Regions from separate parts of the Homo sapiens genome. Here regions 2, 3 and 4 are each linked to region 1. The links come from fine-mapping of genetic effects on gene expression. A gene starts in region 1. Each other region holds a variant in brackets. All regions are shown on one strand. Distances are between the middles of the regions.

Region 1 (7,247 bases):
ACAGCTCCTCCGTCTCCAGAGGCCTGGCAGTGGCCAAGTCTAGAAGGACGCGGGTGCCACCTGGTACAGGGTGAGGGTGTGAATAACAGACCCCGAAGGGTTGCCACCTCGAGCCCCGTGCCTTGTCCAGGAATACACAGGCTCTTTTGATGTCAGGTAACTTTGCCATATGATCTTTGTGGTGTACCTGGTAGGTCACACCCTGTGAGTGTGTAGATGCCTCCTCCCGTGCTGGCTGCTTAATTTCTTCTGCACTCATAATCCTGACCATCTTGAAGATCATCACTGAAATACTCCTGTGTAATGTGTGGCTACAAAGTGCTATCTAAAGATGCTCTCTCAAACTCAGCTCATGAAGATGAGAGGAACATCACAGGGAACTGTGTGGCTTCTTAGCAGGCATCAGGGCAGATACTTAGAAATTAAAGTTGAATTTTAGAAACTTACATTTTATATTTTAATGCCCATCTTACATTTTAAGGTATTTTAGTGAGAAAAAGTTGCATCCCAAATAGTATTTCTGAATCTGAAAGGAAGTCAACTCCTCTGTTACTAGAAGTTCGTTCTTCTTTTTTTTTAGACAGAGCCATTCTGTCACCCAGGCTGGAGTGCAGTGGCACAATCTGCTCACTGCAGCCTCAACCTCCCAGGCTCAAGTGATCCTCCCACCTCAGCCTCCCAAGTAGCTGGGACTGCAGGCATGCACCACCACGCCTGGCTGATTTTTTTTTTTTTTTGGTAGAGTCTGGGTTTCACTATGTTGCCCGGGCTGGTCTCAAGCTTCTGGATTCAAGCGATCCTCCCTCCTTGGCCTCCCAAAGTGCTGGGATTACTGGTGTAAGCCACTATGCCCAGCTGTAAGCAGTTCTAATTCAGCACCAACTTTCAGGAGAAGACCAGTTGTATGATTCCATAAGTGTCAAGAATTATCCAGCACCTTGTTAAAATTTCATTTTAACCAACTTAAAGTAACAAATCTGTGCAATCATGGTAGTGATAATTAATCAATTGAGTTGATGGCCAAGTCTGTTGGCCTCTCCCTGTGGTAGCATTGTTCCTACTGTAGTGTGCTACCTCAGGAATTCAAAGGGCTCAAGTTTCTCAAAGGTATAAAGCAGAAGCTTTAAACATCCCCCAAAATGCAAGCTTGCTCTAACTTGTTCACCAGGAAGAATTATAGATTACATCTGTTTGCCCAGCCTTATCATTTTCACTTTATGGAACCTCACAACTCTCCGTAACCTTTATCGCACGTTATTTGCTGGAGATGGCGCCATGCTCCTTTCATGGATTAGCTGACATTCCTAATAGGCTGGATATTTTAGGCTGTTTTGCAGGCTTAGAAACAGAGATTTGGGGCCAGGCACGGTGGCTCATGCCTGTAATCCCAACACTGGGAGGCTGAGGTGGGTGGATCACCTGAGGTCAGGAGTTTGAGACCGGCCTGACCAGTATGGTGAAACCCCCATCTCTACTAAAAATTACAAAAATTAGCCAGGCGTGGTAGCACATGCCTGTAGTCCCAGCTACTCGGGAGGCTGAGGCAGGAGAATGGCTTGAACACGGGGGGCGGAAGTAACAGTGAGCTGAGATGGTGCCACTGCACTCCAGCCTGGGCCACAGACTGAGACTCCATCTCAGGAAAAAAAAAAAAAGAAAAGAAAAGAAATGGAGATTTGGCAAAATTAAGTCACTTGGGATCCCAGGAAATTGGAATCTGAGGCTGAATGAAACCTCTTAGTGGGATGGTTGAACATGTATACGGCAAATTATGTTGCAAGTGGAAAATGTGAAAAACACAATAGAGCCTGGCATGGTGGCTCACACCTGTCATCTAAGCACTTTGGGAGGCCAAGGGGGAGGATCGCTTGAGGCCAGGAGTTCAAGACCAGCCAGAGTAACAGTGAGACCTCTGTCTCTACAAAAATGTTTTTAAAATTGGCCAAGCAGTGGTGGCTTACACCTGTAGACCCAACTACTTAGGAGGCTGAGGTGGGATCACTTGAGCCTAAGAGTTCAAGTGAGCCCTGATCATGCCAGTGCCTCCAGCCTGAGCAACAGGGTGAGACCCTGCCTCTAAAAACTGAACAACAAAAAAAATCAGTAGGGTGTCAGCTACGGGAGTTACTGTTTCGGTGCAATCAGATTAGGATGAGAGGATCTGAACTGATGAGCATTGCAGTAGGTGAAAGACGGTAAGTGGCCATTTCTATTAGCATTAAATAGTCACTGATGTGGTTTCATCAGGATTCACAATACATGTGTGGCTCCCAAATTGAGTTTCAAAGTCTTGGGTTCATGGTGTCCCCTGCCCAGCAAAATAAAGTGCAAATCTTACGGAGCAACACATTTTAAGTTCAGGCCTCAAGTACTTCCAGAGACAAAAGTCCTGGGGACACTGGCTCAGAATGGGGGAAAGGGGACCCTGGGCCAAGAGTCAACCAGGATGACATGCAGAATCAGACCTGCAAGGGCTGCAGATACTGTAGTTATGAGGCACACCCAACGCTTAAAGATAAATATGTGGTTGGAAGTATAAGAGCCTATTAAAACTGCTAGAATATAAGAAATCAAATAGGACAAAAACAGAATCATTGGCAGGGTGCAGTGGCTCACGCCTGTAATCCCAGCACTTTGGGACGCCGAGGGAGGCGGGTGGATCACTTGAGGTCAGCAGTTCAAGACCAGCCTGGCCAACATGGTGAAACCCCGTCTCTACTAAAAATACAAAAAAATGAGCCGGGCGTTAATAGCGCGTGTCTGTAGTCCCAGCTACTCAGGAGGCTGAGGCAGGAGAATCGCTTGGACCCAGGAGGCGAAGGTTGCAGTGAGCCGAGATCGCGCCATCACACTCCAGCCTGGGCGACAAGAGCGAAACACCGTCTCAAAAAAAAAAAAATCGGTGCAATTAATAACCCAGTGGATGGGTTAAACAGATTGCACGTAGCTGAAAAGTAACCGAAAATCTGGACTGGCGCGGTGGCTCACGCCTGTCATCCCAGCACTCTGGGAGGTCGAGGCGGGCGGATCACTTGAGATCAGAAATTTGAGACCAGCCTGGCCAACATGGCGAAACCCCGTCTCTACTAAAAATACAAAATTAGCTGGTCTGTAATCCCAGCTACTCCGGAGGCTGAGGGAGAAGAATCACTTGAACCCAGAAGGCGGAGCTTGCAGTGAGCCAGGATCGCGCCACCGCACTCCAGCCTGGGCGACAGAGCAAGACTCCATCTCAAAAAAAAAAAAAAAAAAGAAAATCTGAAGCAGTCAGTGCAGTAGGGAGAAGTGGGCGAAAGGAAGGAGGCCACGCTGCTGGGTTTCAGGATGAGATGGGCGTTGAGGGTGCATTCACAGAATCCCGGGAGGAGCCAGCTGAGCGGGGAAGGCATCAGGAGAGGGGAGGCACTGAGCGGGGCGCGGTGCTGTAGGGAACGGAGGCTCATCAGGGCGGCCGGGATTGAGGCGCAGGCGCTGAGCCTTCACCTAAGTCCGCCGAAGTGTGCAGAGCCTGGAGACGGGATCGAGGTCACCGGAAGCCCACGGTTGCGGGGACATGATCAAGCTACAGCGCGCTGGGGGAAGCGACCACTGCCGCCCCGCGGATCCCACCGGCCTGGCCGGGAGCTCCCTCTGCCCGGCTCACCCGCGCTTCCGGCCCGAAGCCCGGCTTCCTCTGACGTCACGGCCCCTGCGCCCCCTGGCGGCGCGGCTGCGGCGGGACGCGCGGGCACCGCCCCCTCCGGCTGGAGGGCGGGACTTCCGGTGAGTGAGTGACGGGCGCAGCCTCGGCAGCGGCGGCGGCGGAGCCCTGAGGCGACAGCAGCTGCGGGAGGCGACGGGCTGCGGCCTGCGGAACCTGAGGCAGCTGGGGAGGGCCGGGCGCGCCGGCCGGATAGCGAGCCGCGCTGGCGGCGGCGGTGGCCGCGATGATGGAGATCCAGATGGACGAGGGCGGCGGCGTGGTGGTGTACCAGGACGACTACTGCTCCGGCTCGGTGATGTCGGAGCGGGTGTCGGGCCTGGCGGGCTCCATCTACCGCGAGTTCGAGCGCCTCATCCACTGCTACGACGAGGAGGTGGTCAAGGAGCTCATGCCGCTGGTGGTGAACGTGCTGGAGAACCTAGACTCGGTGCTCAGCGAGAACCAGGAGCACGAGGTGGAGCTGGAGCTGCTGCGCGAGGACAACGAGCAGCTGCTCACCCAGTACGAGCGTGAGAAGGCGCTGCGCAGGCAGGCGGAGGAGGTGCGTGGGCCGCGGGACCCGCCCGCATCCCCGTCCCGGACCCCCAGCCAGCCCCGGGCCCCGGACCCAACACCCGTCCCGACCCCAGACCCCGCTCCGGCACCCCGGACCGCGGGACCCCTGGACCCCCAGACCCCGCCCCGAGACCCGCCTGGACCCCATATCCCCCGCCCCGGGACTTCCCCACCCCCTCTGCCCGCCGTGAGACACCTCCCTAGAGCACTCCCCCGCCTGCCCCGGGACCCCACCCCGACTCCCGGGGACCCCCTTTTCCGCCCAGGCCTGGGCCCTGGCCCCCTCCTCCGTGCCCCCAGCCCTGAATCTTCAGCCCCAAACCCGATGTGCCTGGCGTCATCCCCGGGGAGCTCAGCTTCAAAGCCAGGCCTCACTCTCCCCTCCCCACCCACCTCTGCATGACAATTGCCTTTGCTTTCGTGCGTGTGTTCAGTCAAAACCGTTTCCCGACCCCAAGTGCTACCTCTGTTGGCTGCCATTCTAAACCCATCTAGAAAAGGAATCTTTTGGTGTTCTTAGGGGGCTGCAGCCGTCTGTGGATGATGTTGGAGACCTTTCCCTTGTCCCTAATCCCGTATTTTGAAGGTCTGTGACACGGGTGAATTGGGTGGTTGATGTAAACACAGAACAAGGCCGCAGGCGGGCTGCTCCTCTGTCAGCAGAAGGAACACTCGAGTTTCTGGAGGTGATGTCTTTGCCCCCTTGGTTCCTTGCTTGGCGAGATTGTTAGCTGATGTAGCCAGGGCTGAGAAACTCCACTCTGGCTTCTGAGGAGTTAACAGTCTGAGTTTGAAGCGTTTAATTCTGTGCTAGGATGTCTCCATAACCTGGAAATCGCTTGTCTGTGAAGCAGTTACAAGAGCCGGGCCCTGTGGGGAGCACCACTTAGCTTCATTCATTCACCGTCAGATACTGAGCTCGGCCTGCCTGTGTGTGGGCCCAGAACCTCGCCCTTTGTCAGAAACAGGTTCAGGGAGGCTGGTTCCCATCCCTGCTTTGCCTCTGTGACCTTGGCCTGTCGCCTGCCTGGGGTTCGATTTTCCATCAAAGGAGTGAATTGCACTAGGCGATCTCCAAGCCCAGAAATTCTCTCATTCTAGGAGTTAGGTAATGCTGTTTGACTTATGAATAGAAGTGTCTTAGGAAATGAGCTTCAATTCCTTTTCAATTAATTCGGCTTAACACATTCTTGACTTTAATAGGAAAATAAAAGATTGTGTCAGTATTTTGGCTTTTTCTGAAACCAAGGTGATTTATGGCCTAGTTTGGTTTAAAGCGTGTTTATAAAAATCATAACAGTATGTTGTATCATTCCTCCTTTCCTGTGGTTTCTATTGCGTTTGGGCTTCGTGTCTGTCGCGAGGTGGTTATGCATTGATTGGAATGCCCCGGTTCCAGCAAAGCTGAGTTAAAGCTCTCAACCTAAGGGAACGCAAAGGTTCATGGATTTTGGAGCTCAGGGTGACTATAGGCATTTTACTGGGAAGGAAACTTGTCCTGAGAAGTGGAGGGGCTGAACCAAGGTCACCCACCCCAGAAGTGCCCAGCCAGGATGCAGAGTGAACCCGACACCGGCCTGGGCACTTGCTTCCATGTCAGGCAGCTGCAGGCACCGGAGGGCTGCTCCCCAGAAGCCTGGAGTGCCAGGGCTGCCCTCGCTCAGCTGTGGAGCTGTGGCTGCCCCCTGTGCTGGGCACCGCCCTCCACTGCTCTCCCACACTCAGTGGCCTGACCTGGATTTCAGGTGGGTTTCTTTTTTTCACCTTGTACCTGTGTGGTCAGTATAGTGGACGAGAAGGAACTGAAAGGAGAAAATCAAGATGGACAACGTTAAGGCTAGGAATTATAACCTTGCCGCTTAAAAATGAGCTGTGCACAGGATAGGCGCTGCCCAGCTCTGTGCGGTTCACATGCAAGCTGCTGTGAGTGCATCTGCCCTCCCCCAGGGCTCCTGCTGAACCAAGCTGGCGGGTGTGCGTGTGGTTTGCAAAGCTATCACCTTTAGTCTGAGACCCACCATTGCCCCAGCGCTTTAGAGAAGCTGCACCGAGAGCTTCGGGAGCCGAGCCCCGAAGCCAGCCAATGCTTGGCCAGCATGGAGGCTATGATTAAACGCTAACGGGGCGCCCTTGGAAAGACCTCAGGGCTTTACAACTAAGGAAGAGGGCTCGATGCTGTCAACATTTGGCATGCCTACTCCTCTACTGAATCAAGCAGACCTTCATTTCCAACTTTGTAGACCATTGTGCCCTGTGGGTCGGCGTCTTTTCTAGGCAGGGACTTGTGATCACATAGACGTGTGTCTGATAAGAGGGGAGCGGGACGTCACACGCTGCAGGCGTGTCTTGTTGCAGAGGAGCTCCTGGGTGAGCTGTCAGCAGAAGCTCCGTCCCCAGCCACTCTGCTCAAGAAGGCTTAGTCAGAGATGGGTAACCTGAGCCACTGCAGCTTCTGAGCAGACAGAATCCGCAGGGTTTTATAAAAACCTGAGCAGAGCAGACATCCCTGTTCCCATCTTCTTGCCGGTCATTACCACAGTGACTCCCAATGTGCTCTGATAACAGGCAGCTGAGTGTATGAGAGTGACAGGAGCTAGAGAGGGTGGGGTCTCCCGAGAGACTGACCCAAGCCGTGGAGTCTGCAGACCCCAGCCTGAGTGTCAGCCCGGCCCTCAGGAGCCACACACCCTGGGTCCATCCTCTTCCCCTCGCTGGGCTGCAGTGGCCGCGGACTTTGCAAGTCAGTTTCATCTCAAGATCCAAGCACCATCACTGGCTGTTGGTTGCCTGGAGAATTGTGGGCAGGCAGATGTAGCAGAGTCAGGGCAGAACCCTTGACGGGTTCTCAGGGCCGCCGTGGACGGCAGGCACCGGACATTGCTAGCCGCCTACCAGACAGTGCAGTTTCTGGTTGTGCAGGCTCTGATACAAAGTTTTTTAAAACCCTCAAGTTATTTCCCAGTGGAAAAGAAGAAGGTGGGAAACAGCA
Region 2 (7,247 bases), 33 kb after region 1:
GACCGTCCATGTGAGCATCTGTGTGACCATCCGTGTGACCGTCCGTGTGAGAGCGTGACCGCCCGTGTGAGCATCCATATGACCGTCCATGGAGCATCTGTGTGACTGTCCATGTGAGCATCCGTGTGACCATCCGTGAGCATCCGTGTGACCGTCTGTGTGAGTGTGACCGCCCATGTGAGCATCCGTGTGACCGTCCATGTGAGCATCCGTGTGACCGTCCATGTGAGAGTGTGACCGTCCATGTGAGCATCCGTGTGAGCGTGTGACCGTCCGTGTGTGTGACCATCCGTGTGAGAGTGTGACCGTCCATGTGAGCATCCGTGTGACCGTCCGTGTGTGTGACCATCCATGTGAGCATCTGTGTGACCGTCCGTGTGAGCGTCCGTGTGAGCGTGTGACCGTCCGTGTGAGCATGTGTGACCATCCGTGTGAGCGTCCGTGTAAGCATCCGTGTGAGCGTGTGACTGTCCGTGTGAGCGTGTGACCATCCATGTGAGCATCCGTGTGACCGTGAGCGTCCGTGTGAGCGTGTGACCGTGTGAGCATCCGTGTGAGCGTGTGACCGTCCGTGTGTGACCGTCCGTGTGAGCATCCGTGTGAGCGTGACCGTCCGTGTGTGACCGTCCGTGTAAGCATCCGTGTGAGCGTGTGACTGTCCGTGTGAGCGTGTGACCATCCATGTGAGCATCCGTGTGACCGTGAGCGTCCGTGTGAGCGTGTGACCGTCCGTGTGTGACCGTCCGTGTGAGCATCCGTGTGAGCGTGTGACTGTCCGTGTGTGACCGTCCGTGTGAGCGTGTGACCATCCATGTGAGCATCCGTGTGACCGTCCGTGTGAGCGTCCGTGTGAGCGTGTGACCGTCCGTGTGAGCGTGTGACCGTCCGTGTGAGCATCCGTGTGACCGACCGTGTGAGCGTCCGTGTGAGCGTGTGACCGTCCGTGTGAGCGTGTGACCATCCATGTGAGCATCCGTGTGACCGTCTGTGTGACCATCCGTGTGTGACCGTCCGTGTGAGCGTGTGACCGTCCGTGTGAGCGTCCGTGTGAGCGTGTGACCGTCCGTGTGTGACCGTCCATGTGAGCATCCGTGAGCGTGTGACCGTCCGTGTGTGACCGTCTGTGTGAGTGACCATCCATGTGAGCATCCGTGACCGTCCATGTGAGCGTGTGACCGTCCGTGTGACCGTCCGTGTGAGCATCCGTGTGAGCGTGTGACCGTCCGTGTGAGAGTGTGACCATCCATGTGAGCATCCGTGTGACCGTCCGTGTGAGCGTCCGTGTGAGCGTGTGACCGTCCGTGTGAGTGTGACCATCCATGTGAGCATCTGTGTGACCGTCCGTGTGAGCATGTGACCATCCGTGACCGTCCGTGTGAGCATCCGTGTGAGCGTGTGACCGTCCGTGTGAGCGTGTGACCATCCGTGAGAGTGTGACCATCCATGTAAGCATCCGTGTGACCGTGTGAGCGTCCGTGTGAGCGTGTGAGCGTCCGTGTGAGTGTGACCATCCATGTGAGCATCTGTGTGACCGTCCGTGTGAGCATCCGTGTGAGCGTGACCGTCCGTGAGTGTGTGACCGTCCGTGTGAGAGTGTGACCATCCATGTGAGCATCTGTGTGACCGTCCGTGTGAGCGTCCGTGTGAGTGTGTGAGCGTCCGTGTGAGTGTGACCACCCATGTGAGCATCTGTGTGACCGTCCGTGTGAGCGTCCGTGTGAGCGTGTGACCGTCCGTGTGAGTGTGTGACCATTCGTGTGAGAGTGTGACCATCCATGTGAGCATCTGTGTGACCGTCCGTGAGCATCCGTGTGAGCGTGTGACCGTCCGTGTGTGTGACCATCCATGTGAGCATCCGTGTGACTGTCCGTGTGAGCGTCCGTGTGAGCGTGTGACCGTCCGTGTGTGACCATCCATGTGAGCATCTGTGTGACCGTCCGTGTGAGCATCCGTGTGAGCGTGACCATCCGTGTGTGTGACCATCCGTGTGAGTGACCATCCATGTGAGCATCCATGTGACCGTCCGTGTGAGCGTCCGTGTGAGCGTGACTGTCCGTGTGTGTGACCATCCATGTGAGCATCTGTGTGACCGTCCGTGTGAGCATCCGTGTGAGCGTGTGACCGTCCGTGTGTGTGACCATCCATGTGAGCATCCGTGTGACTGTCCGTGTGAGCGTCCGTGTGAGCGTGTGACCGTCCGTGTGACCATCCATGTGAGCATCTGTGTGACCGTCCGTGTGAGCATCCGTGTGAGCGTGTGACCGTCCGTGTGAGTGTGTGACCATCCGTGTGAGAGTGTGACCATCCATGTGAGCATCCATGTGACCGTCCGTGTGAGCGTGACTGTCCGTGTGTGTGACCATCCATGTGAGCATCTGTGTGACCGTCCGTGTGAGCGTCCGTGAGCGTGTGACCGTCCGTGTGTGTGACCATCCGTGTGAGAGTGTGACCATCCATTTGAGCATCCGTGTGAGCGTGTGACCGTCCGTGTGAGTGTGACCATCCATGTGAGCATCTGTGTGACCGTCCGTGTGAGCATCCGTGAGCGTGTGACCGTCCGTGTGTGTGACCATCCGTGTGAGTGTGACCATCCATGTGAGCATCCGTGTGACCGTGTGAGCGTCCGTGTGAGCGTGTGACCGTGTGAGAGAGTGACCATCCATGTGAGCATGTGTGACCGTCCGTGTGAGCATCCGTGTGAGCGTGTGACCGTCCGTGTGTGTGACCATCCATGTGAGCATCTGTGTGACTGTCCGTGTGAGCATCCGTGTGAGCGTGTGAGCATCCGTGTGAGTGTGACCATCCATGTGAGCATCTGTGTGACCGTCCGTGTGAGCATCGGTGTGAGCGTGTGAGCGTCCGTGTGAGTGTGACCATCCATGTGAGCATGTGTGACCGTCCGTGTAGCATCCATGTGAGCGTGTGAGCATCCGTGTGAGTGTGACCACCCATGTGAGCATCTGTGACCGTCCGTGTGAGCGTCCGTGTGAGCGTGTGAGCGTCCGTGTGAGTGTGACCACCCATGTGAGCATCTGTGTGACCGTCCGTGTGAGCGTCCGTGTGAGCGTGTGAGCGTCCGTGTGAGTGTGACCATCCATGTGAGCATCTGTGTGACCATCCGTGTAGCATCCATGTGTGTGAGCGTCCGTGTGAGAGTGTGACCACCCATGTGAGCATCTGTGTGACCGTCCGTGTGAGCATGTGAGCATCCGTGTGTGTGACCATCCATGTGAGCATCTGTGTGAGCGTCCGTGTGAGCGTCCGTGTGAGCGTGTGAGCGTCCGTGTGAGTGTGACCATCCATGTGAGCATCTGTGTGACCGTCTGTGTGAGCATCCGTGTGAGCGTGTGACCGTCCGTGTGTGTGACCATCCGTGTGAGTGTGACCATCCATGTGAGCATCCGTGTGACCGTCCGTGTGAGCGTCCGTGTGAGCGTGTGACCGTCCGTGAGAGTGTGACCATCCATGTGAGCATCTGTGTGACCGTCCGTGTGAGCATCCATGTGAGCCTGTGACCGTCCGTGTGAGTGTGTGACCATCCGTGTGAGAGTGTGACCATCCATGTGAGCATCCGTGTGAGCATCCGTGTGACCGTCCGTGTGAGCATCCGTGTGACCGTCCATGTGAGCATCCCTGTGACCGTCCGTGTGAGCCTCCGTGTGACCGTCCGTGTGAGCTTCCGTGTGACCGTCCGTGTGAGCATGTGTGACCGTTCGTGTGAGTGTGTGACCGTCCGTGTGAGCTTCCGTGTGACCATCCGTGTGAGCATCTGTGTGACCGTTCGTGTGTGTGTGACCGTCCGTGTGTGACCGTCCGTGTGAGCTTCCGTGTGACCGTCCGTGTGAGCTTCCGTGTGACCGTCCGTGTGAGCATCTGTGTGACCGTTCGTGTGAGTGACCGTCCGTGTGAGCTTCCGTGTGACCGTCCGTGTGAGCATCTGTGTGACCGTGTGTGTGTGACCGTCCGTGTGTGACCGTCCATGTGAGCGTGTCACCGTCCATGTGAGCATCCGTGTGACCATCCGTGTGAGCGTGTGAGCATCCGTGTGACCGTCCGTGTGAGCATCCGTGTGACCGTGTGAGCCTGTGAGCATCCGTGTGACCGTCCGTGTGAGCATCCCTGTGACCGTCCGTGTGAGCTTCCGTGTGACTGTCCGTGTGAGCATCCGTGTGACCGTCCGTGTGAGCGTGTGACCGTCCGTGTGAGCATCCGTGTGACCATCCGTGTGAGCGTGTGAGCATCCGTGTGACCGTCCGTGTGAGCATCCGTGTGACTGTCCGTGTGAGCGTGAGCATCCGTGTGACCGTCCGTGTGAGCATCCCTGTGACCGTCCGTGTGAGCGTGTGACTGTCCGTGTGAGCTTCCGTGTGACCGTCCGTGTGAGCATCTGTGTGACCGTTCGTGTGAGTGTGTGACCGTCCGTGTGAGCTTCCGTGTGACCGTCCGTGTGAGCATCTGTGTGACCGTTCGTGTGAGTGTGTGACCGTCCGTGTGAGTGTCCGCATAACCGT[G/A]TGAGCATCCGTGTGATCATCCGTAACCGTGTAGGCGTCCTTGTGAGCCTCCGTGTGAGCGTGCAACCGTCTGTGTGACCGTCCGTGTAAGCGTGTGACCGTCCGTGTGAGCGTGTGCACACGCTGCTGCCCACACCCTCTAACACCTGTCTCCTTATCGTCACATGCTGACCGTCCGTGTGAGCATCTGTGTGACCGTCCATATGAGCGTGTGCGCACGCTGTGGCCCACGCCCTCTAACACCTGTCTCCTTGTCTCGCCCTCTGTGCCATCACCACATGCTGACCATCCATGTGGCGTGTGCGCATTCTGCTGCCCACGCCTTCTAACGCCTGTCTCCTTGTCTTGCCCTCTGTGCTGTCGCTGCCGTGTGCTGCCGTGTCTGTCGCTGCCCTGCAGTCCTCGTCAGTCGTGGAGGAAAAGGTAAAACCCAAGAGGTGTGTCCACTGTGGTGCTGGGGGACGACCAGCAGGCACATTAGGGCATCAGTTACCAGCCCAGGGCGGCTGCTTGGTCTGCTGTGAGGTGTTTCCTGTGGCAGATGTGAGAGGTCGGAAGGGCCATCTGGCCACATTCACGAGACTGACACTGAGAAGGTGGCGACCACTGGGTCCCCTGCACAGCCATGCAGCTGGGCAGCGCCGTCCAGGTCGCCCACACTCTGCCCTCGCTCCACAAGCACTGCCTTGGTCACAGACGAAGGCACGGCGCCGACTCCTGCTAAGGAGGGGTGTGCATCAGGTGGGGCTGGTGCTGACTCGGGGGGCGACGGGCCAAGGAAGGGCCCCTCTCTGCATCAGTCGGACCTGGACTCATAGCCCAGCTCCCTCACTCACCAGCCTGTGTCAGAGCCGGTGACACACCCATGACCCCCAAGGGCAGCGTGACCCCCGAGGGTGGCGTGACCCCTGGGGGTGGTGGTCTCTGAACTAGGGAGCATCTGCATCCCCTGAGGGAGCTGCGAGGACAAATCGGGAGGACGGGGTCAGTCGGCAAACGCTCACGAGCCTGAGGCCAGGGCCTGGGGGCCGGTGGGGAGGAGCAAAGGAAAGAGTGAAGGCAGCTCCTGATCCTGGGTGATTTCTGTCGGAGGTGGTGGCCTGGCTGAGCCGTGGCCCAGCATGGAGCTGTGTGGGTGGGAGAGCCGTACATGCATTCCCTTGGCCTCCTGGGAGACCAGAGGCCCCTCTGACCCTGCTGTCCCCTGTAGCATCTGGTGACAGCCAGGACCGCATCGGCTTCGGTCTAGGGACTGAGACGTGTCTGATGGCGTCAGAACTGGGCCTCAGCAGAGGCGCTCCCCGCACCAGCGTTGGGAGCGCAGTGGAAGTGGGGCCAGGAGGCCCCTGGTGCAGACAGGGCGGTTGAAGCCCAGCCTCCCACTGGGGTCATGCTCCCTGGGCCTGGTGGCTGGCTGCCTTCACGGTGGCCAGGGAACCTCATGGCTGTTGTCACAACAGCTTGAGTGCCATGGACCAGCAGCCAAGATGGCACAGCCCAGTCCCAGCCGGCCCTGGTTCCCTCGTGCTACAGGATACGGTGTTGTCCTGAACATAACAGAGCAGGCGGCCAGTCCCCAGAGCTGTATGCACCCCACAAAGAGACCCCTTCCCAGGGTCATTCTTCATAGCTCCCCACCCAGGTAGCGGAGCTCCTGGTCAGCGGCGGCTGCTGCGTTCCCCTGTCGCCGTCTGCATCCTCCAGGCATGGCCAGAGCAGGTTCCTTGAACCCCTGAGGAAGCTCCCTTCCCTCCTACAGTCTCAGGGCTGAGATGTAAGCAGCTGAGGCTGTGGTGCAAGCAGACTCTTAATTCTTGTCCTGAATAGCCCTGAGCAGTGTGGGCTCCAGCATCTGACCACGTGGCCTGCCCCCCAGACCTGAGGAGGTGAGGAGCCAGCCTGGCCTCTGGGACCTCTGGGCTGTTGACTGGAAACCTCCCGCGGAGGAGGACGTAAAGGGAGACCTTGGGCTCCATCCCTGCTCTTGCTTATGGCCCACAGGAGGTCATCCCTAGGGACTGAGCCCACAGCAGGGGGCACTGAGCACTGTCCTGACAGCTCCAGCTCCCAGGCGCTCCCACTGTCTTGCCAGGCTGTCCGAGGCCAGGCTGTCCCAGGGTCCGTCTTCAGGTTCGGGGCTCCCTGACAGCAGAGAGGACACGTGGGGAGGGAGAAGACGCCCCTCAGGCTCAGGCTCCGGCTGCAGCAGATGAGACGGGGTCAGTCCTTACTCTGGATGTGTCGTGTTCAGATATTTTGCAGTGAGGCAGCCTCATGAACAGGAGTAATGAGGATGGGCAGGAGGGGCCAAGGAACAAGGCACAGGGGCAGGAAGGCTGGATTCCCTCTGCTGGCGCCAGGGGAACAGGCAGGGCTGGCAGTAACACCACAGGGAGGCAGGGCTGGGCACACATAAGACAATGGTCCTAAAAGGCATTGCTCATGGTGGCCGTGCAGCGCTGACCGTGATGCCAAGTCCCGTGGCTGGCTCTGCTGTGGGGTGTCTAAAGCACACCCGGCTTGTGTCTGTTTAAAATTGAACTTAGGCCGGGCGCGGTGGCTCACGCCTGTAATCCCAGCACTGTGGGAGGCCGAGGCAGGCGGATCATCAGGTCAGGAGATCGAGACCATCCTGGCTAACACGGTGAAACCCCGTCTCTACTAAAAATACAAAAAAAAATTAGCCAGGCGTGGGAGGCTGAGGCAGGAGAATGGCGTGAACCTGGGAGGTGGAAC
Region 3 (7,247 bases), 220 kb after region 1:
GCGTGAGATTCAGGGGCCTCTCGGGTGGGACCTGCGGGGGCCGCTAGACACTGCGGGAACTTCACATCCCCAACGCCCAGCAGCAGCCTGCAGGGAAGGCAGGGGAGGCGAGCCGGGCTCAGAGAGGGCGAGCAACTTGCCCCATCCGAAGGCAAAGGTGGTATGAGACCCGGGTCCTCTCTCCACCTCTGCCCCAGCCTTCCTGGCCACAGGGCTGGCGCCAGGCAGGCACGGCACAGGCTCCCGGCAGAGGCCCAGCCTCTTCCCAGCCAAGGGCTTGCGGCCCCTGTCCTGGGCTCTGCTGCGTTAATGAGCCGTTCCAGCCCTGATGGCATCTGGACAAGTCCCAGCAGCCGGGCTGCCTCAAGGGGCCGAAGGCCTCCACGACCCACAGACATTCCGGAGCTCCTACCCAGCAGCAGCCCTGGCCAGAGGGGGCCACACGGGGCTGACGGGGTGAAGACCACTGACCAGTCCCCCAGCCCCGGCTCCAGACATGCGGGCTGCACCTGCTCATCTGGGCAAGCCTCTGCAGGAGCCCCGTGGGCAGGCAGCGGGCACAATGCGAGGAGAGCATGCTGGCTTATGCTGGGTCACAGGAAATTCTTCTTCTGGTCTAGCTTGAAACGGTATTGTTCCCAACGGGCTGGCTCGGGGTGGGGGCTGGGGTCCCACCCTGCAGCATCCACCCCACAGTCTCAGCAGTCCCCACGGTCTCAGGAGTCCTCACGGTCTCAGGAGTCCCCACGGTCTCAGCATCCCCATGGTCTCAGCTGTCCCCAGGGTCTCAGGAGTCCCCACGGTCTCAGCCGTCCCCATGGTCTCAGCCGTCCCCAGGGTCTCAGGAGTCCCCACGGTCTCAGCCGTCCCCACGGTCTCAGCAGTCCCCACGGTCTCAGGAGCCCCCACGGTCTCAGCCATCCCCACGGTCTCAGGAGTCCCCACGGTCTCAGCAGTCCCCACGGTCTCAGGAGCCCCCACGGTCTCAGCCATCCCCACGGTCTCAGGAGTCCCCACGGTCTCAGCCGTCCCCACGGTCTGAGTCCCCACGGTCTCAGCTGTTCCCACGGTCTCAGGAGTCCCCACAGGTTCAGCAGTCCCCACGGTCTCAGCCATCCCCACGGTCTCAGCCGTCCCCACAGTCTCAGCCATCCCCACGGTCTCAGCAGTCCCTACTCAGGACTTGAAATTCCAGCACTGGTTCCGTGATGGCTCCTCCAGCCCCCTGCCCAGCCCAGCATGGTCATTTCCATCTCCTGGCCTTTCCGCTGCCGTCTCTCTGCTGGATGCTTTATCCTTAGTCCCCGCTGAGGGCAGAAGGACTTTCCAGGAGGAATTGACCAGAACGCAGAACAGCAGGATGTGGAATGGACTGGGGACAGGGAGAGAGAGATGCAGGGACCAGGAGTCGGCTCGGAGGGTTCTCCTGGAAGCTGACCCCTCCCTCCATCAGGCACTCGGCTGACGGTGGCTACACACCTCGGGGCGCCCAGGATGGCAGCACTGGGGCTGTTCATTCACCAGTGGATCCCCAGCACCTAACAGAGCCTGGCACGCAGTGGACATTCCATTAATGTCGCTCAGTGGAAGGGTATACGTGGGAGGAGAGGTCGGGAAGGCTTTCTGGAGGTGACGGCCAGGTGAAGACGAGGAGAACAGCATTCCAGGCCAAGGAACCGTGTGGGTGAAGGCTCAGCAGCAGAGAGCCCGGGCAGTAGAGGATGGGGTGGAGCTTAAGGCCCTGCGGGAACAGGGGCGGGGCTTAGAGTCTGGCCTGAGGCTGGTCCAGCCCCGCCTCCTCCTCAGGCTCCCACCAACTCTGAGCCACCAGACCCTCCTTTGTAAAATGAAGACCTCAGTCATGACTCGCATGAGTCTCTGAAGAGTAACAGCTTTATTGTGATGTAATTCACACACCACTCAATCCAGCCATTTGTCGCATGCAAATCAATGGTTTTCAGTATATTCATAGTCGTGCAATCACAATCAATTTTAGAACATTTCTATCACCCCAAAAAGAAATCCTGTGTCCATTAGCAATGACGCCCTCTTCTCCCCTTCCCACAGCCCCTGGCAACCACGAATCTACTTTCTGTCTCTATGGGTTTGCCTATTCTGGACATTTCACAAAAAGAGAATCATTGCTTGAAGCCAGGAGTTCAAGACCAACCTGGGCAACAAAGCGAGAACCCCGTCTGTACAAAATATTTTAAATTTAGCCAGGCACAGTGGCGCACACCAGTAGTCCCAGCACTTTGGAAGTCTGAGGCAGGAGGTTCACTTGAGGCGGGGAATTCAAAACCAGCCTGGGCAACATAGGGAGTACCAGTCTCTACAAAAAATTTCAAAATTTGCCAAGCGTGATGGTATGCACCTATAGTCCTAGCTTACTCAGGAGGCTGAGGTGGGAGGATCGCTTGAGCCCAGGAGTACGAGGCTGCAGTGAGCCATGATCATACCACTGCATTCCAGCCTGGGCGACAGAGTGAGAGCCCATCTCTAAAACAGAAAGAAAGAAAGAAAGAAATATGGCCAGTCACAGTGGCTCATGCCTGTAATCCCAGCATTTTGGGAGGCCAAGGCAGGTGGATCACTTGAGGTCAGGAGTTCGAGACCAGCCTGGCCAACATGGTGAAACCCTGTCTCTACCAAAAATACATAAATTAGCCAGGTGTGGGCCAGGCGCCATGGCTTACACTTGTAATCCCAGCACTTTGGGAGGCCGAGGTGGGCAGATCACCTGAGGTTGAGAGTTCGAGACCAGCCTGACCAACATGAAGAAACCCTGTCTCTACTAAAAATACAAAAAATTAGCTGGGTGTGGTGGTGCATGCCTGTAATCTCAGCTACTTGGGAGGCTGAGGAAGGAGAATGGCTTGAACCCGGGAGGCAGAGGTTGTGGTGAGCCGAGATCGCGCGATTGCACTCCAGCCTGGGCAACAACAGCAAAACTCCATCTCAAATAATAATAATAATAAATTAGCCAGGTGTGGTGGTGCACGCCTGTAGTCCCAGCTACTCGGGAGGCTGAGGCACAAGAAACCCTTGAACCCGGGAGGCAGAGGTTGCAGTGAAGCTGAAATTGCACCATTCCACTCCAGCCTGGGAGACAGAGTGAGACACCATCTCTAAAATGAAAAAAAAAAAAGAGAATCATACAATGTTCGTCCTTTTGTGTCTGGGTCTCTTACTCAGCATGTTCTCCAGGTTCATCAACACTGTGGCATGTGCCAGTACCTCCTTCCTCTTCCTGACTGAGTAATACTCCATCGTATGGATGGACCACCTTTTGTTGATTCCCTCATTCGTTGATGGACATCTAGGTTGTTTCCACTGCGGGGTTCTTATGAATAACGCTGCCATGAACATTCAGGTATACGGTTTTGAGTGGACATACGTTTCATGTCTCTAGGGAATATACCTAGGAGTGAAATTGCTCAATCATATGGTAACTCTGTGTTGAGTGCCTTATGAAGGTTAAATCTGATAATTTCAGGAACTTCTTCTCCATGCTCCTCACACACAAACTTCCTTCCCTCTGCCCCAGGACACCTGAGCAACCAGACTGTAGGGACAAAGGGTG[T/G]GGGCTGTCCCTGCACCCTGAGAGGGTCCCTCGCCTCCTGCTCTCTGTCTGAATGTCCTCCTCCGCCAAGAAACAGACATCAACAAGTTCCTTCTGCCTAGCCGGATCTCCCAAGGCCCCAGGGGTTTTGAGGGTCCACACTGCCCGAGCTCATCTTGACCCCTGTATAAGCCAGACAGCCAGGCAGATGGTCTGTCCACCCTCCAGCTGACGAACATGTGGATGGTCGGCCTGATGTAGTGGCTGGGAGGAGAGGATCTGGGAGGGGAGATGGGCTGTGCTGCCCCAGCTGCTGGGCCCAGTAAACGTTGTCCCTTGGAGAGGTGACAAGGAGGGCCAGGGCAGGAGGGGATGGAGAGGGGAAGAGGTGGGGAGTCCTGGGGAGCAAGGCCGTGCTAGGAGGAATGCCCTGCCCGGCGTCAGATCCTCAACCAGCGTCCTGGCTACATTTGTGCCCCCTTCACAGTCTGTAACTATTTCTTTGTGGGTGATTTTGATCCCTGTCTCCACCTACCCATGATCTCTACAAGGGCAGAGACGGGGTCAGTCTTGATCCCTTTTGTGGCTCCACGCCTGACCAGGATGACAGCTCATGTTTGTTGAGCAACTAAGTGACTGTGTGTGTGTGTCTGTGTGTGTCCCTCCCTGACACCCCTCTCCACCTCTTTCCCAGTCTGTCCCCTCCCCGGGGTGGGCAGCCCCAGCCTGGGCCCTCACAAGCGAGGGCAGGACCGCGGCCCCACTCTGGAAAGTGATTAGCGGCCCCGCCCTCCGCCGAAGACAGCTAGGGTAGATTTCACACAGCCAGGAGGAGCTCCAGGAACTCCCTCCCTGAGAACCACACCCTTCATCCCTGAGACTGGCTCTGCCCCGCTCCGTGCCTCCTGCCAGGATTCCTGCGAGGGGAGCAAGCGGAGGGGGCTGCCGCCAGAGGGCGGGCCCAGCTGTCCTTGATTTGTGTGGGGTTTTTCCACTTCAGATGCCTGATTTGCCCGAGCTCATAAAGGATGTGGTTCCCTCCCAGGGAGGGGCCCCTCAGAGAGGCCAGTCCCCCATCCTACCCTCCCCGAGGGCCCGCTGTTCCCAGTTCACCCTGGTGGGGACCGAGGCGGGGCAGGAGCCCCTTGCTAGGATGGGGCAACGGTAACAGCAAAGGCTGTAGGGACCTTCAAGGCTGATTCAAGGCCAGCACTGTGGCCGGGCGTGGTGGCTCACGCTTGTAATTCCAGCACTTTGGGAAGCTGAGGTAGAAGGATTACTTGAGCCCAGGAGTTTGACACCTGCTTGGGCAACATAGGGAGATCTCATCTCTAAAGAAAAAAAACTATTTTAATTGGCCAGGCATGGTGGTGCACACCCGCGGTCCCAGCTACTCAGGAGGCTGAGGTGGGAGGAACTCTTGAGCCCAGGAGGTCAAGGCTGCAGTGAACTATAATTGCACCACTGCACTCCAGCTTGGGCCACAGAGCAAGACCCAATCTCAAAAAAAACCAGCCAGCTCTGCCCCCTCCTAGCGGGTGACCTTAGCAGGAGTCCAGGCCTGTGATCCTCACTTCCCTACTGTATTAAACAAAGTTGACACTCACCCCCACCTCCCTTTGTACCCAGCTCCTAAGTGCTTGGTGAATGTTCTTTACGACAAGGACCCAGAGAACGTGCGGCAGGGGCCACAGAAGGGGTGCTCGGAGGCTGCTCCCGCGCTGGGGAAACTGAGGACCTATCTCATAATTCCGTCTTCCCTGCAGACAAGGCTGGAGCACAAAGGCATCACTGGCCTCACGGTGGCAAGCAAGCCTGGCTTGCCGAACCCTGGATCTTGTTCCTGGTGACCCAGGGACACTGTGACAGAGAAGGGTTGTGGGGCTTCCCAGGATTTGCCAAGGCAGACCAGATTCCCAGCATCGGGAAGGACGCTTCCCCACTGTCTTCAGTCCCCTGCCTGCTGGGAGCCTGCCTGGGGTTGCAGGGTTTGCCAGAGGAGCCAGAATCCTCTCCTGCAGAGGGGTGGCCCCAGCCTGCTTCCAGCCACCCTCAATCCTCTCCCTTGGGTCTTCCTGGAGGAATCAGCACAGAGAGAAGGCGATTTGCTACTCTTTCCTGTTCCCTCCCCCAACCTCCATGAATAACTGGGCCCTGCAAACTGCCTCTTGCCCACCAGCCTGGCCAGTTCAATTTATAAAAATGTAGCAATCAGGCCGGGCACAGTGGCTCACACCTGTAATCCCAGTACTTTGGGAGGCTGAGGCGGGTGATCATCTGAGGTCGAGAGTTCAAGACCAACCTGGCCAACATGGCGAAACCCCGTCTCTACTAAAAATACAAAAATTAGCTGGGCACAGTGGCTCGTGCATGTAATCCCAGCCCCTTGGGAGGCTGAGGCAGGAGAATCGCTTGAACCTGGGAGGCAGAGGTTGCAATAAGCCAAGATTGCACCATTGCACTCCAGCCTGGGTGACAGAGCTAGACACTGTCTCCAAAAAAACAAAACAAAAAACAATGTAGCAATCCTTCTTCCAGGCTGGTAGTCCCATTTGTGCCTCTATCTCCAGGGTGGATCTGAACAGGACAAGAGGAGGGTCCCACAGAAACAGGGCTCTCCTTGCCCTCCCCCAGCCCCACCTCCTCCAGTTTCATAGCCCTAAGCCAGGCCTTTGGGCATGGAAGTCTCCCAGCCCTGTGGGGAGGGCAGAGCAGCGTTCAATCAACCCCAAGAGAGTCCTCTGTGGCCAGGTCTGTCCAGCCCTGTCGATGGTCTCCATGGACTGGAAGGCCACCAGGAGCATGTTCGTCAGGAGCAAGGGGACTGGACACAGGCCCAGGAGTCCCATGCGCTGCACAGGAGATGGGACTCTGTGTGCCTGTCTGTGGACCCTGGTGAGTGTACACATCTTCTGTGAGTGTGCACGTGGGCACAGGTGGAGGGGGGTTCAGAGGCCTGCAGCCAGGCCCCAGGCACCTTCACACAGTGTGGAAAGCCCCAAGTGACACCCCACACCACTTTTGGAGCCTGTAAGCCCCCTTCTGTTTTTTGTTTGTTTGTTTGTTTTTGAGAGGGAGTCTCGCTCTGTTGCCCAGGCTTGAGTGCAATGGCGCGATCTCGGCTCACTGCAACCTCCGCCTTCCAGGTTCAAGTGAATCTCCTGCCTCAGCCTCCCGAGTAGCTGGGATTACAGGCATGTGCCACCATGTCCAGCTAATTTTTTGTATTTTTAGTAGAGATGGGGTTTCACCATGTTGGCCAGGATGGTCTCGATCTCATGACCTCAGGTGATCCGTCTGCCTCGGCCTCCCAAAGTGCTGGGATTACAGGCACGAGCCACCGTGCGCGCCTGCCTGTAAGCCCCTTTTGAAGAGTTAGTCCCCCCTGGCCAGCAGACAGGATCCCCAGCAAGGGCACCTCCATTTGCCCTACTTCCGGGGGCAGCACCTCACCCCCGCAGTGGACCAGACAGGCATGTGGCCTGTCTTACTCGGTTCAACGCTCAGGAGGACTCAGAACCTGCAGTCAGGCCGAGAGCTCTAAATTCCTCTTCCCAACCCCCACCCCTGCCTCGCCCCTCTTAGGCTTCACAGCCTTCAAAGTCAACCCCTCCCCCTCCCCCCACCCCTCTGGCCGAGAGCCAGGACTCCATCCCTCATCTCCCAGGCTGGTCACTGCTGTCCT
Region 4 (7,247 bases), 160 kb before region 1:
ACGTCATCTCTCTGTATTTCGTGCGTTCTGTCAGGCATCTGAAACAAGGTGGCTTGGGAACAGATGACCGTGTGATTGAATCTCGAGGCAGGCGAGCCAGAGCCTGGCGCTAGCTGAGGGGGAGCCCCACCCCTCTCTCCGGTGGCTCCACGTGGCTCCGTCACCACGCATGCCCCGCCACACATCAAACGGGCACGTAAGACCCTGCCTGAATACAGGTGGAGGACAGAGCTCCCGGGCTTCACCCCCTGCTCGGCCAGGACCCAGCTGAACCACGTTCTCACCGACACCTTTAAAAGTCAGCTGCTACCACGCACAGCCACGCAGAGCCACGCAGAGCCACGCACACAGGCAGCACCCCAGGAACCCGTATAACACCCAAGCAGTGAACGCCAGCTCCAAACAGCTTTCTTGGGGCAGGCGGGAGCGTGGCTCAGACAGGAAGGCTCGGGCAGGAGTGCCTCCTTCCTGGCAGGGCGGTGGGTCTGTGGGTGCCCTTGTGGTGAGCCATGCACCCTGGGGACTTGGAGGCTGCAGAGTGGCTTGTGGGGCACGGCTGCTGCACAGAGCCCCTGCCATGGTGTGTGGCACAGGGCTGTGTGCCTGGAGCTGCGAGGAAGGAAGGCTGAGAGGCCAGGGCTGAGGGCGAGAGGACAGGTCAGGGGTGCGTCTGCTTATTCCCAGCTCCCAGGAACCTTGGTCACTCACCCTCACCACAACTACACGTGCAGCTGTGCCTGGTGCTCAAGCCCACCTCGGTCATGCCATTCTGGGCTATGCTCCTCCCAGGGCAGCTCTGCATCCCTCCTCCCCCTTCATTCTGGTCTTTCCTCCCCTCCAGGGCAGAGCGCAGAGCCCTGGGCAGGGAATCTGAGCTGCTCCTCTCTCGAACATGACCTTCTGCGTGATGTTTTAATGCCTCCCTCATTTTGCAATGTTTAGAGAAGCAGAGGCTTCTGAATGGAAGTCATTGCCAAGACAGTTAAGAGCAAAGATGGCACAGCACCGTGCCACAGATCCTGCTGGAAGGGGCCTCCAGAGCTCACACACGTCCCTAATGTGTGGACAGGACGCCCTCAAAATGCAGGCCTCACTCCGGTCCCTGCAGGCTGTACGTGGTCACTGCTTGGGGCTGGCTGTGGAGTCCGTTGGAGCAGTCAGGAAGGTCCTGCCAGTCAGCCAGGGCAGTGTCTGCCTCAACCCTGGCTCCTGCTGGTCCCATCTGCACAGGCCCTAGGGCAGGTGAGAAACCCAGGGCAAAAGCGCCCCCTACCTCAGGCCTCACCAAGCTGCACGGTGCCACGCGGCCCCCCACCTCAGGCCTCAGCAAGCTGCACAGTGCCAGATGGCCCCACGCCTCAGGCCTCAGCAAGCTGCACAGTGCCAGATGGCCCCCCACCTCAGGCCTCAGCAAGCTGCAGAGTGCCAGACGGCCCCACGCCTCAGGCCTCACCAAGCTGCACAGTGCCACGCCGCCCCACGCCTTGGGCCTCACCAAGCCACACGGTGCCAACGCCGACCCAAGCCTCAGGACTCACCAAGCCACACGGTGCCAAGCCACCCCACACCTTGGGCCTCACCAAGCCGCACAGTGCCAGTGACGTCCCATGCCTTGGGCCTCAGCAAGCCACATGGTGCAAATGCCGCCCCACGCCTTAGGCCTCAGCAAGTTGCACGGTGCCAGGCTGAGGTCAAGCACATCTCTGCTGTCCTCTGGCATTTCCAGTGCCCTGGGCTCTGCCCCTTCCTCCAAGCACTCTGGCCCCACGGCCACCTATGCCCATGCTGAGCCAGGTCCTCACCTGCTGCCAGGCTTTCCCGCTGTCCGTACGGGAACCCCTTGGCCACCAGGCTGGCTCTCAGCCCCCGCGTCTTCTGTTCCTTCTTTAGAGAGAACCTCGCGGGAGCGCTATGGTTTCTAACTCTGCAGTTACTTTGGAGATGAAGGAACGTGAGCTCTCAGTTACGTGGCAGTGACGCTCACTGGGGTGTCTGTTTTGCTGCGAGAAAAATGAGCGAGGGGCAGCTGCTGCCGCTTCCCATGGCCCTGTCAGTGGTGCCTGCCTGTCTGCGGGCAGGCAGCGTGCTCCGCTCTCCCCCTTGCCAGCGGAAGGCTCATGGTGCCATGTGCTGGCTGCTCAGACTCCTCAGCAGCCCGGGGACCCCGTGCCCCAGGGTCCTTCATGCCTCCACTCTCTGCGCACTGCCCTCACACCCTGGAGGTCTCAGGGCTGGGGGCGCCACCCAGGCCGGAGCGGGCACAGTGGAAAAGCCTGGCATCCAGGAAGGAGAGCTCCCTCCGCCCCGAGTGACAGGAGGGGACGCTGTGGAGGGAAGCAGCTTGAAATACAGTGGGTAGGACGGCGGGGGGACCCTCAGTGGCGAGGAGCAGTGTGCCTCCAGGGATGCTGGGACGCCGAAAGCCTAGACTGAGACGATCCCACACACCACCTCAGCCTGGGGCCGGGGCAGATGTGAGCGCTGGAGCAGCACCCAGCCCAAGGGCCAGGTGGGAAGCAGATGCCTCGGCTCCAGAGCTTTGAGGTTATTCTGTGAATCCAGATTGCATTTCAATAAATGTTGAGGTTGAACCGTGTGGAATTGCTAATACTGGCAATAGTGGTTCCAACGGATACTTCTAACCACGTAAACACTCACGAAGTAAAGCAGCCCGCATCCCCCACCACCCCTGAGCCTTGATGCCAGCGTGCCTGCCCCGTGCACGCGTGAACCTCGACAGCTTCCCCTGCTGGGCTGGCTTCCCACAGGCGTGCTCTGAGGAGGCAGCTTGAGGATCTCCCCATCCCCTCTCGGCCTCCACCCAGGACACACAGCAGTCACCCTAGAGGCCAGCACCTTCAGGGCTCTTGGGACATTCTGCTGCTCCCTGGATTCTGGTGTCTGTGATGAATGCGGGCACAGGGACCTGCTCCTGAGCCTGGATTCTGGTGTCTGTGATGGATGCGGGCGCGGGGACCCGCTCCTGAGTGGTGAGGCTGCTTCCCTCTTAGATTCCTGCATCAGTTACCTGAAGAGTGCCCTGAAATTTCAAGGCAAGTCATTTAAAAAGGTGCAACTGTTTATAACGACTTAGTTTTGGGAATCGAATTTCCCAAATATTGTTCAATAGAAAACAAGGCATGGCGATGACAGGCTAGGGACTCTGTGGGGCTGTTGCTTCACATGCAGTCCCTGACTCCAGGCTGAGTGTCTGTCAGCACACACATTGTCTGCTCTGCAGCGTGCAGGGGCCTGGGAACACACTGCTTCACCACCACCTCATTTGGGCCCCTGTGTAAGGTTTTATTTGCGGGAGAACATTTCTCTGCTACAGAAACGTGACGAGCCCTGGTCCCTGAGGGCAACAAACGCACCTCCCTCTGAAGTTCACTCACAGAAGGCTCCATCTGCCCCTGACCACGCATCCATGTGCCCTGCCCACCTGGCTCCTGCAACCAGGTGTAGGTGGGGGACAGAGAAGGCTGGGCACAGGCCTGCTGTGAGTGGGGAAGCAGGCCCTGACTTAAGCCACTGAGTGAAAGATTTGTGGCAGATGGGGTGACGGGGCCCCAGGAGGTGAG[G/A]GGGGCAGGTGGGGGGCACTGGTTCAGACCCATGTCTGACCCCTGCTCAGCCCCTTGCTGGTTATGAGGGGCCCAGATGAGCTGCTTCTCCTCGGTCCCAAGTCCCTCAGCTGCTGGGAGGAGGGAACACCACCATGAGCCGCTTGGGGGTCGGGCAGCTGAGCACGCAGGACAGCACGCCTGAGGAGCTGGCCCCCCGCGGAGTCTCCGGTCAGGCAGCGCCCTCGTCTTGGATGCTGTGAATTCAGTGACAGGGAAGCCGGTGTTGCTGGTGGGCTTCCCCTTCCCACCTCCACCCCCACGCCAGCGCCTTCAAGGGTCAAGTCAGGCAGAGAGGAACAGCTGTCTCAGGAAGACAGAAATAGCAGAGTAGGGCCCGTCCCTGCAGGGATACGACCACTGCAGCCAGGCCCGGCGGCTGGGATGAACCCTTCCCATCAGGAAGACATGGGACCCAGGGCTTGCAGGCAGGTGAGGGGGAGGGCGTGATGCTTCCCGAAGCCACTGCCCAATGGAGGCACAGCCTGTGCCGACCGCCCTTTCCGAGGCAAACAGAGACCACGAAAGTGGCGTGACGGCTGGCGTGGCCTCTGGAGCCCACCTGCACTCACCACTGCCTCTCTGCTCTTGGCCCACAGTGCAGTTCGACATGATGCGCGCCTGCAACCTGGTGGCCACGGCCGCGCTCACCGCAGGCCAGCTCACCTTCCTCCTGGGGCTGGTGGGCCTGCCCCTGCTGTCACCCGACGCCCCGTGCTGGGAGGAGGCCATGGCCGCTGCATTCCAACTGGCGAGTAAGTACCTGGGCGGGTGTGGCCACCGCGCCCTTGCCCCCTGTGGCCTTCTGGTGCCACAGGAGGGTCCTGAGGCCTTGGGTGGCCTGGGGGGAAGCTGCAGGCCATACCTCTCAACATGGCCACAGGCCACTGAGAAGCCCCATGGGGCATCCTCCCTCCCTCTTGCTGTAGGCAAGAATGATGAAAGACAGAAACACACCCAGGCCAAGGAGCAGGGAGGCTGCGACCACCTGGCGTGTCTGTCACACCCTTTTCCACTTTAAAGGCTGAGGCACTTTGCTTTCCTGAGTCTGTGGGGTCTGATTGCTGACTGGCCCTTGTGCAGTCCACATGGGGCAGCCTGGGTCCTGCCCCTTCCTCAATGCTGAGGCAGCTGGTGGGGAGCAGCCCCTGGGCAGAGGCAGAAGAGCCCATGCCTGGCCCTGACCTTCCCAGCTAAGAGGCCTAGAACAGGTCAGGCCTAGGAAGGCCAAGGCATGTGCTCTGTTATAAACGCAGCTTCCTAGGACCTGCCTGGGGTCAGCCTGGGGTCAGCGCAGGCCCTTTCCGTGAGCGGGACAAGACAGAGTGAGAACACGCTAGCACGTTCCACACTGCCTGAGCCGACAGTGAGGTGCCTGCACGAGCACATGCTGTGTGCCTGGCTCGGACACTGATGCAGACGGCAGGACCATCACGAGGCCCTGGCTTCCCCAAGCCGCCATGTGAGTTGGGGAGGAGGCCCGGCCTTGCAGGCGAGGGGCCATTGGTGCTCAGAGCCTCCTCTCAACGCTCTAGACCCAGCAACCTGGGACAGGTCTTGAGAAGACCTGGCGTCATAGAGGGTGACAGTGATGGAGTTGTCGTCAACGACCTATGGAAGGGTCCTGCGGTGTTCTAGACAAGTGCTTGAGCCACAGCAGTGTCCAGCCATGACCCCCAGCGACCCCAGGGGGCTCTGCTGGTCTTCTGTGGCTGACTGAGAGGTTTGAAGACTGTGGGCATCTGGGGCAGGCTCAGGTCTCCTGCTGCTCACTGGGACAGGTCAGCCCGGTGCCCGCAGAGACAGGGACACAGAGAAAGCGAGCATGTCGGCCCATGGCTGAGCATGACCAGCACGGAGCTGCCCGCACCCTCCTTCTCCTCCTCGAGGCCGGTGCAGCGTTCTGCAGGTTGCCCTGCAGTTCCCACAGAGGAAGTGGCAGGAAGTCCAGAGTGAATCATTCTAGGAATAATGATCCTGGGCCCTTATCTTTCTTAAGAAATACAATTTCCAGAAGGAGGCTGACAGACTGTGGGGGCAGGTATTCCTGTGCTGGAAAGTGCCCTGAGCGAGTCAGGCCGGGCTCTCTGAGCGCTATTAATAGCATGGCGTGGCCCTGGGCAAGTCACTTCCCCTGGCGGGTAGGGGCGGGAAGGGAGGGGCCTCGAGGCTTCAGTGGAAGAGCACAGGGCGTGGAGCCTGGAACTGGAGCTGTGTCTTGGCTCCATCACCATCGACGTGGGGTCAGGCAGATGACTAAACTAACGTGAGCCTCTGCATGCCCAACTTCGAAAAGGGTAATTTCTGCCCCCACCCAACTGACTGTAAGAACGAATGAGACAGGGATGTGGGACCTAGGACTGACTCCGCCTCCTCCCCTCCTGCATGACTGCAGGGAAAACATGAGACTCTCAACGAGGTACCCAGGCTAGGAAAGCTCCCACGGGGCCCTCTGCTGACCCGAGGGCCATAAAACAGAGAAGTGGTTTTCCTGTCTCACTGAAATGGCCAATCTCTACCGCGTGCAGGAATCGGAAATGCCGTGGCTTAAAGAAGGAAATGGAAGATTTTGAAAATGTAATTGGAAATGCTGGGTCAGAATAAAGATATTTTAGCGGCATAGAGAAAGCAAAAGCAATAGTTTTTGATTCTGAAAATAACTCCTTCTGTAAGATAACCCAATGGATCACTACATTTCTTTTTTTTTTTTTTTTGAGATGGAGTCTTGCTCTGTCACCCATGCTGGAGTGCAGTGGCGCAATCTCGGCTCACTGCAACCTCTGCCTCCTGGGTTCAAGCGATTCTCCTGCCTCAGCCTCCCGTGTAGGTGGGATTGCAGGCACCTGCCACCACGCCCCACTAATTTTTTTTTTTTTTTTTGAGACGAAGTCTCACTCTGTCACCCAGGCTGGAGTGCCGTGGCACAATCTCGGCTCACTGCAAGCTCCACCTCCCGGGTTCACGCCATTCTCCTGCCTCAGCCTCCTGAGCAGCTGGGACTACAGGCGCCCGCCACCATGCCCGGCTAATTTTTTTTGTATTTTTAGTAGAGATGGGGTTTCACTATGTTCGCCAGGATGGTCTCGATCTCCTGACCTCGTGATCCGCCCACCTTGGCCTCCCAAAGTGCTAGGATTATAGGCGTGAGCCACCGCGCCTGGCCACGCCCCACTAATTTTTGTGTTTTTAGTAGAGACGGGGTTTCACCATGTTGGTCCAGCTGGTCTCGAACTCCTGATCTCAGGTGATCCACCCACCTCAGCCTCCCAAAGTGCTGGAATTACAAACGTGTGCTACTGCGCCCAGCTGGATCACTGCATTTCTTTTTCTTTTTTTTCTTTTTTTGAGATGGAGTCTCGCCCTGTGGCCCAGGCTGGAGTGCAGTGGCGCGATCTCGGCTCACTGCAAGCTCCGCCTCCCGGGTTCACGCCATTCTCCTGCCTCAGCCTCCCGAGTAGCTGGGACTACAGGCACCCGCCACCACGCCTGGCTAATTTTTTGTATTTTTAGTAGAGACGGGGTTTCACCGTGTTAGCCAGGATGGTCTCGATCTCCTGACCTTGTGATCCGCCCGCCTCGGCCTCCCAAAGTGCTGGGATTACAAGCGTGAGCCACGGCACCCGGCCC

Alleles and levels. Alleles are on the strand shown, and positions count from the first base shown. SD is a standard deviation of normalised expression in the study named. Not every link is listed here.
For the expression in monocytes of the gene that starts at base 3,782 in region 1, allele T in region 3 goes with a lower level than allele G (moderate effect, 0.66 SD a copy in BLUEPRINT).

The links. PIP is the estimated chance that this variant, and not a neighbour inherited with it, causes the effect. A credible set is the group of variants that fine-mapping cannot tell apart.
Region 2: its variant is the best candidate, but not a certain one, in a credible set for the expression of MAPK8IP3 in cerebellum (GTEx, PIP 0.89).
Region 3: its variant is the best candidate, but not a certain one, in a credible set for the expression of MAPK8IP3 in monocytes (BLUEPRINT, PIP 0.74).
Region 4: its variant is the best candidate, but not a certain one, in a credible set for the expression of MAPK8IP3 in whole blood (INTERVAL, PIP 0.62).

Annotation. Positions count from the first base shown.
Region 1 is chr16:1,702,414-1,709,660 of GRCh38, forward strand. It overlaps MAPK8IP3 (mitogen-activated protein kinase 8 interacting protein 3), which reads left to right and starts at 3,782. Exons shown (of 32, transcript NM_001318852.2): 1 at 3,782-4,244. The coding sequence starts at 3,927. It also overlaps a transcript of JPT2 not described here. RefSeq lists silencers at 2,335-2,629, 3,536-3,875, 4,146-4,255, 4,276-4,325 and an enhancer at 3,113-3,977.
Region 2 is chr16:1,735,785-1,743,031 of GRCh38, forward strand. All of the region lies in intron 4 of MAPK8IP3 (mitogen-activated protein kinase 8 interacting protein 3), which reads left to right. Among named protein-coding and RNA genes, the nearest start is that of MIR3177, 4.4 kb to the left of the region's middle. RefSeq lists enhancers at 1-181, 3,494-4,072, 4,073-4,650. The variant G/A (reference allele first, on the strand shown) is at 4,512.
Region 3 is chr16:1,919,311-1,926,557 of GRCh38, forward strand. It overlaps a transcript of HS3ST6 not described here. Among named protein-coding and RNA genes, the nearest start is that of HS3ST6, 4.5 kb to the left of the region's middle. RefSeq lists enhancers at 1-323, 324-885, 886-1,449, 1,598-1,892. The variant T/G (reference allele first, on the strand shown) is at 3,584.
Region 4 is chr16:1,537,702-1,544,948 of GRCh38, forward strand. All of the region lies in intron 19 of IFT140 (intraflagellar transport 140), which reads right to left. TMEM204 (transmembrane protein 204) reads left to right here. Exons shown (of 3, transcript NM_024600.6): 2 at 4,220-4,375. Among named protein-coding and RNA genes, the nearest start is that of TMEM204, 7.7 kb to the left of the region's middle. RefSeq lists an enhancer at 4,720-5,422. The variant G/A (reference allele first, on the strand shown) is at 3,582.